2 separate regions of the Homo sapiens genome follow, and region 2 is linked to region 1. The links come from fine-mapping of genetic effects on gene expression. A gene starts in region 1. The other region holds a variant in brackets. All regions are shown on one strand. Distances are between the middles of the regions. Region 1 holds the start of ZC3H7B (zinc finger CCCH-type containing 7B). Region 2 overlaps ZC3H7B (zinc finger CCCH-type containing 7B).

Region 1 (5,367 bases):
GGTGATCCGCCCACCTTGGCCTCCCAAAATTCTGGGATTACAGGGGTGAGCCACCACGCCCGGCCTCGGCCTCCCAAAGTGCTGGGATTACGGGCATTAGCCACCACGCCCGGCCAATTTTTTGTATTTTTTGCAGAGTTAGGGTTTTGTCATGTTGCCCAGGCTGGTCTCAAACTCCTGGGCTCAAGCGATCTGCCCACCTCGGCCTCCTAGTGTTGGGATTTTGGGTGTACCCCATCGAGTACAGTACTCACATTACCCCCATCTTAGTCACCTCAGGCTGCTATGACAGATACCATGGACTGGATGGCTTAAGCAGTAGAAATTTATTTCTCACTGATCTGGGGGCTGGAAGTCCACGACCAGGGTCCCAGCATGGTCAGGTTGTTGGTGAGGGCCGCCTTCCTGGTTTATAGATGGCTGCTTTCTTGCTGTATCCTCACCTGGCAGAGAGAGATAATCTCCCCAGTGTCTCTTATAAGAGCACTAATTCCATTCATCAGGGCTTCATTTTCATGACCTAATTATCTCCCAAAGGCCCCACCTCCTAATACCATCAAATCAGGGATTAGAGATTCAACATATGAATTTTTTTTTTTTTGAGATGGAGTCTCGCTCTGTCGCCCAGGCTGGAATGCAGTGGCACGATCTCGGCTCACTGTAACCTCTACTTCCCAGGTTCAAGCCATTCTCCTGCCTCAGCCTCCCGAGTAGCTGGGACTACAGGCGCCCGCCACCATGCCTGGCTAATTTTTTGTATTTTTAGTAGAGATGGGGTTTCACCGTGTTAGCTGGGATGGTCTCGATCTCCTGACCTTGTGATCCACCCGCCTCGGCCTCCCAAAGTGCTAGGATTACAGGCCTGAGCCACCGCGCCCGGCCTAATTTTTGTATTTTTTTGTAGAGACAGGGTTTCACTACGTTAGCCGTGCTGGTCTCGAACTCCTAACCTTAGGTGATCCACCTACCTTGGCGTCCCAAAGTGCTAGGATTTCAGATGTGAGCCACCGTGCCGAGCTACAGGGTTTTTGAGAGGGTAAAAGAATCAACATATGCAAAGTGTTTGGCTCATAGTAAAGAAGCGGTGGCTGTTACTGCTATTTCAGCTTTAACATGGGGACATAGAGCACACTGTGACAACATGGGACTGACAACATGGGGCTTCCCAGAAAGCCTACCGATGCCAGCCTCCTGGCCCTTTTCTTTTTCTTTCTTTTTTTGAGACAGAGTCTCACTCTGTCGCCCAGGCTGGAGTGCAGTGGCATGATCCCGGCTCACTGCAAGCTACGCCTCCCGGATTCACGCCATTCTCCTGTCTCAGCCTCCTGTGTAGCTGGGACTACAGGCTCCCGACACCACGCCCAGCTTATTTTTTGTATTTTTAGTAGAGATGGGGTTTCACCGTGTTAGCCAGGATGGTCTCGATCTCCTGACCTCATGATCCGCCCGCCTCAACCTCCCAAAGTGCTGGGATTATAGGCGTGAGCTACCGCGCCCGGCCTCCTCCTGGCCCTTTTCTCCAAAGCATCCTCACCTCTGGTTGGGGTCTTGTAATAAAGACCCCTTTACCATCTTAGGCAGCCCAAACAATTGAACAAGTTGGTACCAACTTGAAGAGATAAGAGGCTGGTGTCCTGCTGAATCCCCCTTGAATGATGGACAGTCCTCTTCAAGAATATGTGTTCATTATTTCACCAGCAACCTGGGGTGGTGGAATCACCAGACCATTTGCCATCTAGTTCACTTGAGGCAAAATGCAGCAATCCAACTGGCCTCAGCATCCTCATCGATGAAATGAGAGTGATAATAACCATGGTGGTAAATGTGATAAGTTGTCAAGGGTGTTTCATTGTAAATTGCCTAGGGGGTATTGGGAACTCACACACACACACACACACACACACACACACACACACACACACACACACACATATATTTCTGGAGACAGTTTTGCTCTTGTTGCCCAGGCTGGAGTGCAATGGCATGATCTTGGCTCACTGCAACCTCCACCTCTGGGGTTCAAGTGATTCTCCTGCCTCAGCCTCCTGAGTAGCTGGGATTACAGGCACCCACCACCACGCCTGGCTAATTTTTGTATTTTTGTAGAGATGGGGTTTCACCACGTTGGCTAGTCTGGTCTTGAACTCCTGACCTCAGGTGATCCACCCGTCTTGGCCTCCCAAAGTGCTGAGATTACAGGCGTGAGCCACTGCACCCAGCCCTGATTGTCAATATCTAATCAGGTTCCTCATTTTCCACCATTCCCCAGGTGATGTCTGATCACCTTGCCCTGCCTTCAGCAAGAATCTTGTTAGATGGGTTTAAGCGAGAATCCTCTCATCTCTGATGCAGTTTCCTATGCACTGGCGCTCAATCAGTGGATCCTTTCTCCTTCCTCATAAATTCCCAGTTGCCCATGCTGATTTCTGAATTGAGCCCAAATACTCTCCCTGACCGCAAAACCCACTGCAGTGGTCCCTACACCCATCATGATGCCAATAAAGTCGGCCTTGTAGTCTTTAACAAGTGTCATTCAATATTTTTTTTAACATCCTATACATAAAACTCCAGCCAAGTGAGGTCCTGATTCTTCTATGTGTCTCCGGTTCCCATCTATGAGAAGGGCACAACGCAACCAGGGTTTTGGGCAGCCTTCCATGAAAGCACCTGGAAGCCGGAGAAGGGGGGCGGGGGGACTTTTGACACAGATGGGGAAGGGCGGAGGCGCTGGGTTTGAGCAGCATCAGCCCAGAAATGCAGAACTGCCAAAAGAAACCCCCCTAAAAGGCAGGACACTTTTAAAGAAAATAAAGGTGAATTCCAGGCATGAGCTTTCGACGGGGAATGGGGCTTCCCCGACTCGCCCCCACGCCCCCCGCCCTTCTCCCCAGGTGCGCAGCCCGCGCCGCCCACCCCGGGCGCGGCGAGGCGACGGGAGCCGAGCTCTCTAGGACCCGAGGAGGAAGAGCTGCAGGGAGACAGTGCCTCCAGCGGGTGCTGCCGCGAGCGGCCAGCCGAGGGGCTGGAAATGAAAGTAAAGCGCTCCAGAGCCACATGGACGGAGCTGCCGGGGCGGCGGCGCCGGGAGCAGGATGCGGCCGCCCGTAATTAAATAGCATTTACTCTTATTATTACTAATAATAATAACGTAATCATACCTCTAGTCATAGCATACCATTTATCGGGCTCGGCGCAGGCCCGCGGGGAGCGCAGCCCGGCGGAGGTGAGTGCTTGGCGCGGCCCGAGCCCCGCGGGGCAGAGGCCGGGGACACTGCGTCCGGAGCCGCCCGCGCGCGAGGGTTCGGGGACGCCCGGGCCGGGCAGGGCTGGGGAAGAGGCGAAGAGAGCCCTTTCCAGGCCGGGGCCGCGCGCCGGGCCACCTGGAAAGTGGGATTTTGCAAAAAATAAATCGTCTCTAAAACCCCATTTGCTCCTTTTTGGGGATCCCGGTCCCCGTGCCCTGCCCCAAAGTTTAAAAGTTACCGTGTGGCCGGGGGCACCTGGCGCTGGGGAGACTTGGCCGCCCCTGCAGCCCCCAGGAGGTGTCTTGAAATTTTCGTGGGGCCTCTCTCTTCGGCGTCCGGAGCTTCTGGGGTGTCCAGATGCTTTGCCGACCCCGCGCAGGGGGTCTCGGGGGCTGGCAGGGGCGTCGCTGGCAGGGCCCCCCTTCCTTTTGTGTTGTCCTTGGCCCCGCAGCACCCGGAGTTGGAGGGGCCGCGGCGAGGGCCGGGGAGCGGGGCCGCCCGACGGGCCGCCCCTTTCGGCTGCGGCGGCCACGCGAGCCCGGGGATCCGGGGCCTGCAGCCGGGCCCGCGGGAAGGGGGCGGCAGGAAAGGGGGGCGCGGTCTGGGCCTGCTGGGCAGGGGGGCGTTTCCGGTCGCAGGATCAGTCTCTGGACTTCGAGGCCTGTGGGAGGCCCGCGGCCGTCCAGGGAGTGCTAGGGGGCTGCGGACCCCGGCTCTGGCGCCTGGGGACGGGGGCGCCCTGACGGGGCTGGGGGCCTGGGAGCCGCCGACTCCGGCCTCATACCCCCATCCTGCCCGCTGCGAACCTCAGGGCCCCCCTCCGGGTTTGCTCCCTCCTCCTTTCCCCTCCTTTCTCCTCAACTCTGTCTGTTTTAGGCGTTTATAAGGCGCCTGGTTGGGGGGACTTTCACAGACAAAGCCGTCTTCCCAGGGGGGAAAATAATCATATAAAAACAGCTCACTCTGATAGAACCTGATGGCTGTATTGCCAACAGGGCATTGACGGGGAAGACTAGGGGGCTAGGGCCCTGCGTGGGGAGTCTGGGGGCTCTAAAAGGGGGCTGGGCCTGAGTGGGGAGCTGGTGATCAGCGGTTTTATTTCTCGGGTTGCTAGCTTTGGCATCAGACTTTGAACCCCAACTTCTTGCCATATTCCTCAGCATCTGCAGTTCAGCCTGATGAAAATAGCAGAATGCAGATCCTTGAATTTTCACACAAATGAGATAATTATAGTACATGTAGCAACTGTGTTGGACACAAAATGCTGGCAGAATCTTTAGTTCTACTACCAATACTTCCTCTACACACATACAGCCATCCCCTCCGTGGTGGTCTTCTTTCCCCGTGTCCACCTCCCACAGAAGTTGGACTGCAAGGTGGAAATGACACCTGGTCAACAGTTGGATGGAGCATGTTTGAGAAGTGGGGAGACTTAAGGTGGGAAGAAAGAACCTGTCCAGGAGGGATGAGATCTGAGGATGGGAGAGAGACTTTGTTGTCCCTGAGCTGGGATAAAGTTTCTGTTCTGTAGATGCTGTGTGTTCTTAGCTGCTGGCTTTTGTATAGGTTAGACAGGAATGGGGGTTTTGGTAGATTATTGTGGGGCTTAGAAGCTTGGTGGGATGTGCTGATCTCTCGAGTCTTAGTAGGAAAGCTGAGATGTCGGTTGAGACATGGATAGAGAATCTGAAAATAATCCCTCAATCTGAAAATAATAATCCCTCAAATATCACTTTTTAGTTTATAACAAAAGGGCTTTCACATGTGTTGGCTCATCTGTCCTCCATAGCAACTGTGTCAGGTAGACATTTTCTAGATAAGAAACCTTAGGCCGAATTGTGTGTCTTGCTGGAAAGTCAGACAGCAGAGGTAGGATTCCCACCCAGTTTTCTGGCTCCAAATCGTCACCCTTTCCCAGAGTCCTGGGCCACCTTAGCAAGTTACTTTTCATTTATTTTATTTTATTTTATTTTACTTTTTTGAGACGGAGTCTCGCTCTGTCGCCCAGGCTGGAGTGCAGTGGCGCGATCTTGGCTCACTGCAAGCTCCGCCTCCCGGGTTCACGCCATTCTCCTGCCTCAGCCTCCTGAGTAGCTGGGACTACAGGCTCCCGCCACTACGC
Region 2 (5,367 bases), 42 kb after region 1:
TCATGGGTAAGGCCATGGGTGGGCCCGTTCAACCTCCCTGGACAGGTTGCACAGTGCTGTGGCCTCTTTGGTGCCTGGAGAGTGGAGTTGAGTTACAGATCTGTTTGTCCCCATCACTCCTTAGCAATCCCAGGCCATGTCTGTGTGTTGCCGTCTCTGCAGTGCTCAGCACAGTGTGGGGCTGGGCCTGAGGGGTGGGTGTCTTGTTCAAGATCAAGCAGAGGAGAGCTGCGACAGTCCAGGCCTCTAGACTCCCAGTCTGGTGCTCCCTGCCCAGCCTCCCGGGACCCTGGGTCACCAGGCTGGTGAGATCCCATGGGATGATCCTGAGGCTGGGGGCGGAGCACAAGGTCATGGCCTCCCACTGCACCACTCTGGGCTGGGTGCCAGGGACCCAGGGAGGAAGCCGTCTTGTCTGGGCGCTGGTGGGGCTAGCTTTCGGCAGTCGGACACAGCCCAGGGCACTCGACTGAGAGGGCTTAACGGGACTGTCGGGGCACGGAGGGGACTTCACTCAGCCTCAGGGCCAAAGGAGGCTTCCTGGAGGAAGTGATGACTAGGCAGGGTCTTGAAGGAAAAGTTCACCTGCCAGGCAGAGGAAGCAGGGGCACTAGCCTGGCATGGCATGGCGCGGGGCTGGCTGATGAGCGGAGCAGCTGGGGTGGGGGCCTTGGTCTCCGAGGACCTGGGAGCAAGCTAAGGAACTTGGGCTTTCTCCTACGGGCAGCGGGAAGCCCTGGCAAGTTTAAGCAAAGAGTGGACACACTCAGGCTGGGAGGCGTCTTTGCCCCTGGGGAGTGGAGAGGAGAGGATAGAGTCAGGGGTTCAGCAGGAGTAGGAGAGGATGTGTGGCCTGGGGGCTTCTCCGAGTCAGCAATACATAAGGGGAAGCCCTAGGAAGGCCCCTCACGCCTCAGAGCCAGAGCCACTGACCCCTGTGTCTTCTCCCTGCCCAGAGGAGACCAACTCACAGGACCACCGTCCCCCTAGCGGTGCTCAGAAACCAGCCCCCTCGGTGAGTGACTTGAGTGGGGATCCAGGCCTCTCATTCCCTGCTGGGGGTTGTGGGTTCTAGAGTTGGGGAATGAGCCCTCTGCATGGGGTAAGGCACTGCATTCCCCACGGCGGGGCACTCCCAGAGTGGATGGATCAAAGATGATCACCTCGTGCCCTTCCTCACCAAGCCATATGCTGGGCGGGCACACAGAGGGCACCACTGCCCTTGTCTGATGGAAGAATTCAAGTCTCAGAGAGTGAAGTGACTTCCCCAGTGTTAGTAGCATCCCTGGTCTCCAGACTCAGTCCGGTCCTGAGTTTAAAAGAGCATCTGGGCCGGGCGCGGTGGCTCATGCCTGTAATCCCAGCACTTTGGGAGGCCGAGTTGGGCGGATCACAAGGTCAGGAGATTGAGACCATCCTGGCTAACACAGTGAAACCCCGTCTCTACTAAAAATACAAAAAATTAGCCGGGTGTGGTGGTGGGCACCTGTAGTCCCAGCTACTCGCGAGGCTGAGGCAGAAGAATGGCATGAACCCGGGAGGCAGAGTTTGCAGTGAGCCGAGATCGCGCCACTGCATTCCAGCCTGGGCGACAGAGCGAGACTCCGTCTCAAAAAAAAGAAAATAATAATAAAAGAACATCTGATGAGGGGCCAGGCGTGGTGGCTCATGCCTATAATCCCAGCACTTTGGGAGGCCGAGGTGTGCAGATCACAAGGTCAGGAGTTCGAGACCAGCCTGGCCAACATGGTGATACCCCGTCTCTATTAAAAATACAAAAATTAGCTGGGTGTAGTGGCGGACACCTGTAATCCCAGGTACTCAGGAGGCTGAGGCAGGAGAATCGCTTGAACCTGGGAGGTGGAGGTTGCGGTGAGCTGAGAGCACGCCATTGCACTCTAGCCTGGGCAACAAGAGCAAAACTCCATCTCAAAAAAAAAAAAAAAAGAGCTTGCTACACTCTGACCTACACTAGCTGTGTGGTCCTGGGGAATTTCCCTAACCTCTCTGAGTCTTGCCTTCCTCCCCATCTGCTGATGACTTGGGGGATTGGGGGAGGGCATGAGCACAGGCTGCAATCACGGCCCCTCCCATTTCTATGCTTTCACATTCAACTTGCCTTCAAAGAAAGGCTCAGAGCCAAGACCCAGGTCACCCACTAGCCTGGGACCATATGCTGGGACCAAGGTGGTCCTGATATTTTAGACTCTTGGACCACATTACAAAGAACTCCCCTGGCTGGGAGGGTGGAGGAAGAGGAAGGGTCCTGGGCTGTGGTTTTGCTCTTGGGTAGGATAGGGGGGTCATAGAGCACTCCCCACTTCTGGTGCCCTGGCTGGCCCCAGTGGCCTCAGCCATCATCCAGTGCCCACAATGGCCTCCTTCCTCCTGTCACAGCCAGAGCCCTGCATGCCCAACACTGCCTTGCTCATCAAGAACCCCTTGGCTGCCACCCACGAGTTCAAGCAGGCCTGCCAGCTCTGCTACCCCAAGACAGGTAAACTTTCACCTGTAGACTCCACCCCTCTGCCCAGAGAACTGGGAATCTCAGGAACATGGGATCCCAGATCAAAAGAATCCCAGTGTCTCAGTTGGAGATAAGTGCCAGAAATCAGAAGCCCCTCTGGGGCAGAAAAGGAAAGGGGCAGGAGTTTGGGGTCTGTCCCTGCCAGGCACCACCTTCACAGTCCTTTCTAGAGAAACACTAACATGGTCAGACTCACTAGAGAGTGAGGACGGTGGTAGAAAAAGGATGGGTAGGCCGGATGCGGTGGCTCACACCTGTAATCCCAGCATTTTGTGAGGCTGAGGCAGGCAGATCACTTGAGGTCAGGAGTTTGAGATCAGCCTGGCCAACATGGTGAAATCCTGTCTCTACTAAAAATACAAAAAGTAGCCAGGCTTGGTGGTGCTCGCTTATAGTCCCAGCTACTCGGGAGGCTGAGGCAGGAGAATTGCTTGAACCCGGAAGGCAGAGGTTGCAGTGAGTTGGGATCACACTACTGCACTCCAGCCTGGGTGACTGAGTGAGACTCTGTCTCAAAAAAAAGGAGGGGGGATGGGTGCCAAGAATGGGCTCCTTCGAGGGGCTTCCCCCAGCACAGTCCCCCGGTCTCCAGGGAGCAAGTAGCCAGGAAGGGTGTGGTGGGAGCTGGCAGGAGGCCCTCAGAGGGGAGGTAGGTATATAAGGAGGGGGCCGATTCCTACCCACCGCATGGGCCTGCCAGCCATCAC[T/C]CTTCAATTCTGCTTCCGGAATTATCATGTGTGTCCACCCTGCCCATAGGCCCCCGGGCTGGCGACTACACCTACCGTGAGGGCCTTGAGCACAAGTGCAAGCGGGACATCCTGCTCGGCCGGCTCCGGAGCTCGGAGGACCAGACCTGGAAGCGGATCCGGCCCCGGCCCACTAAGACCAGCTTCGTGGGCTCCTACTACCTGTGCAAAGGTGGGTGGGCTGCAGCGGGGCAGGCAGCACAGCTGGGGCCCAGCCCCTCCACCCCCAGCCGCTGCTCTACTCCCCATCACAGGTAGACAGAACAGGGGTGGGCCTCACAGCTGCACGGGAGGAGAAAGCCACGGCCTAGGCTCCTGGGGCCCGTGCAGGATGAATTCCACATCAGAATGAGCGTCTTCTTCCCTTAGCAGCTTCCAGAGGCAGGTGGGACACATTTGGGACATTCAGCTGGAGACCGAGCCCGTCACTGGCCTGTGCTCTGGAGTGTCAGGAGCCTACATGACTCATAGGGGGCTGGCTTCTCTTACCACTGTAGGGCCCTGAGGGGCCGCGGGGCAGTGTGCCCAGCAGCCACATGAAGCATTTAGGACTGGCGCATGGTGAGGGCTCCATCCACTTGAGCTCTCTGTCACTCTTCTGTTGTCACTGTCCTCATTTCTGGCTCACATCAGCCTGGTTGGTATTTAATGGACATCCATCATGTCCCTGACTAGCTTCTTTCTGGTCCCAGCCAAGCGCCTTGGTCCCGCTGTACGGCGATATGTGAATAGTCACGAATTGCTAAGGCCTTCCCAGTGTAGCCCTTTCATTTCACCAGCATGCAGCCTCACAGCTCTGGAGGAGGAAACGGAGGCTTTGAGAGTGCACCCACGGCTCTGCCTCTCCCCCAACCTGGCCCCTAGCAGTGGCCCGCCCAGGCCTCCTGAACTTGCTCCTTGTCCTCCCAGCAGCCAGGCTGGTCTAAGGACATGTCACTCTTGGGTCAAAGGCCTCCATCAGCCACTGCCCGTGGCCAGTGGGATGAAGTCCACATTCTGCAACAAGACCTACACGTGCCCGTATCCACCCCCTCACCCCTCTGCCCTAACCATTCCCCAAATGCACTGACCCTCCCTGATTCCGTCACACACGCTGTGCCCTTTGAGCCTAGTCACCCTCTGCTCCTCCTTCAAGCACCGCCTGAATCTTGGGAAGCCCTTCTCTGCGGTGCTTCCCCTTGCAATCACCCCCACTCCCACCCAGGGATCTGCCCCACTCCTCCAGGTCTGTGGCCTGTTTGTCCTTGTGCGCCAAGAGCCTGGCAGAGAGATGGGACAAGGCAGACTTAGAGTGGGAGGAGGAGAAAGAAAAACAGGTCCCACCCCCAGGAAACAGCAGAGCTCCAGGTTCTGAGCCACCTTTCCTCTCTCCAGATGGCCCAGCCCCCAGAAATTTTGTTTTGGTTTGTTTTTGTTTTATGAGACAGGGTCTTGCTCTGTTGCCCAGGCCAGAGTGAGTGGTGCTGTTATAGCTCACTGCAGCTTCAACCTCCTGGGCTTAAGCCATCTTCTTGCCTCAGCCTCTTGAGTAGCTGAGACTACAGGCACATGCCACCACACCCAGCTTATTCTTTAATTTTTAACTTTTTTGTAGAGATAGGGTTCTTAATTTGTTGCCCAGCCTGGTCTTGAAGTCCTTGCCTCAAGCAATTCTCCTGCCTCAGCCTCCCAAAGTCCTAGGATTACAGGCATGAGCCACCATGTCCAGCGCCCCCGCCAGCTTTATGTATTATCTCACTTGATTCCAACAACCCAGTCTCCTCCATTCATAGCAAAGACAGCTGAGGCTCGGGGAGTAATGAGGAATCCTAGCCCAATTCTGTCTGACGCCAAATTACATGCTCTTAACCATGCAGTGTTCTTTTCCTGGTGAATAATTATTTTTAAATCCCTTATATTTGCCAGTCACAGTGGCTCATGCCTGTAATCCCAGCACTTTGGGAGGCCGAGGGGGGTGGATCACCTGAGGTCGGGAGTTTGAGACCAGCCTGACCAACATGGAGAAACCCTGTCTTTACTAAAAATACAAAATTAGCCGGGCGTGGTGGCGGGTGCCTGTAATCCCAGCTACTCGGGAGGCTGAGGCAGGAGAAT

Evidence for each region. PIP is the estimated chance that this variant, and not a neighbour inherited with it, causes the effect.
Region 2: its variant is the best candidate, but not a certain one, in a credible set for the expression of ZC3H7B in whole blood (INTERVAL, PIP 0.63).

What each region holds. Positions count from the first base shown.
Region 1 is chr22:41,298,550-41,303,916 of GRCh38, forward strand. ZC3H7B (zinc finger CCCH-type containing 7B) reads left to right here and starts at 2,976. Exons shown (of 23, transcript NM_017590.6): 1 at 2,976-3,223. It also overlaps a transcript of RANGAP1 not described here. RefSeq lists silencers at 2,663-3,002, 3,283-3,352 and an enhancer at 3,084-3,585.
Region 2 is chr22:41,340,132-41,345,498 of GRCh38, forward strand. ZC3H7B (zinc finger CCCH-type containing 7B) reads left to right here. Exons shown (of 23, transcript NM_017590.6): 10 at 1-6; 11 at 957-1,015; 12 at 2,398-2,497; 13 at 3,284-3,445. Among named protein-coding and RNA genes, the nearest start is that of TEF, 39 kb to the right of the region's middle. The variant T/C (reference allele first, on the strand shown) is at 3,235.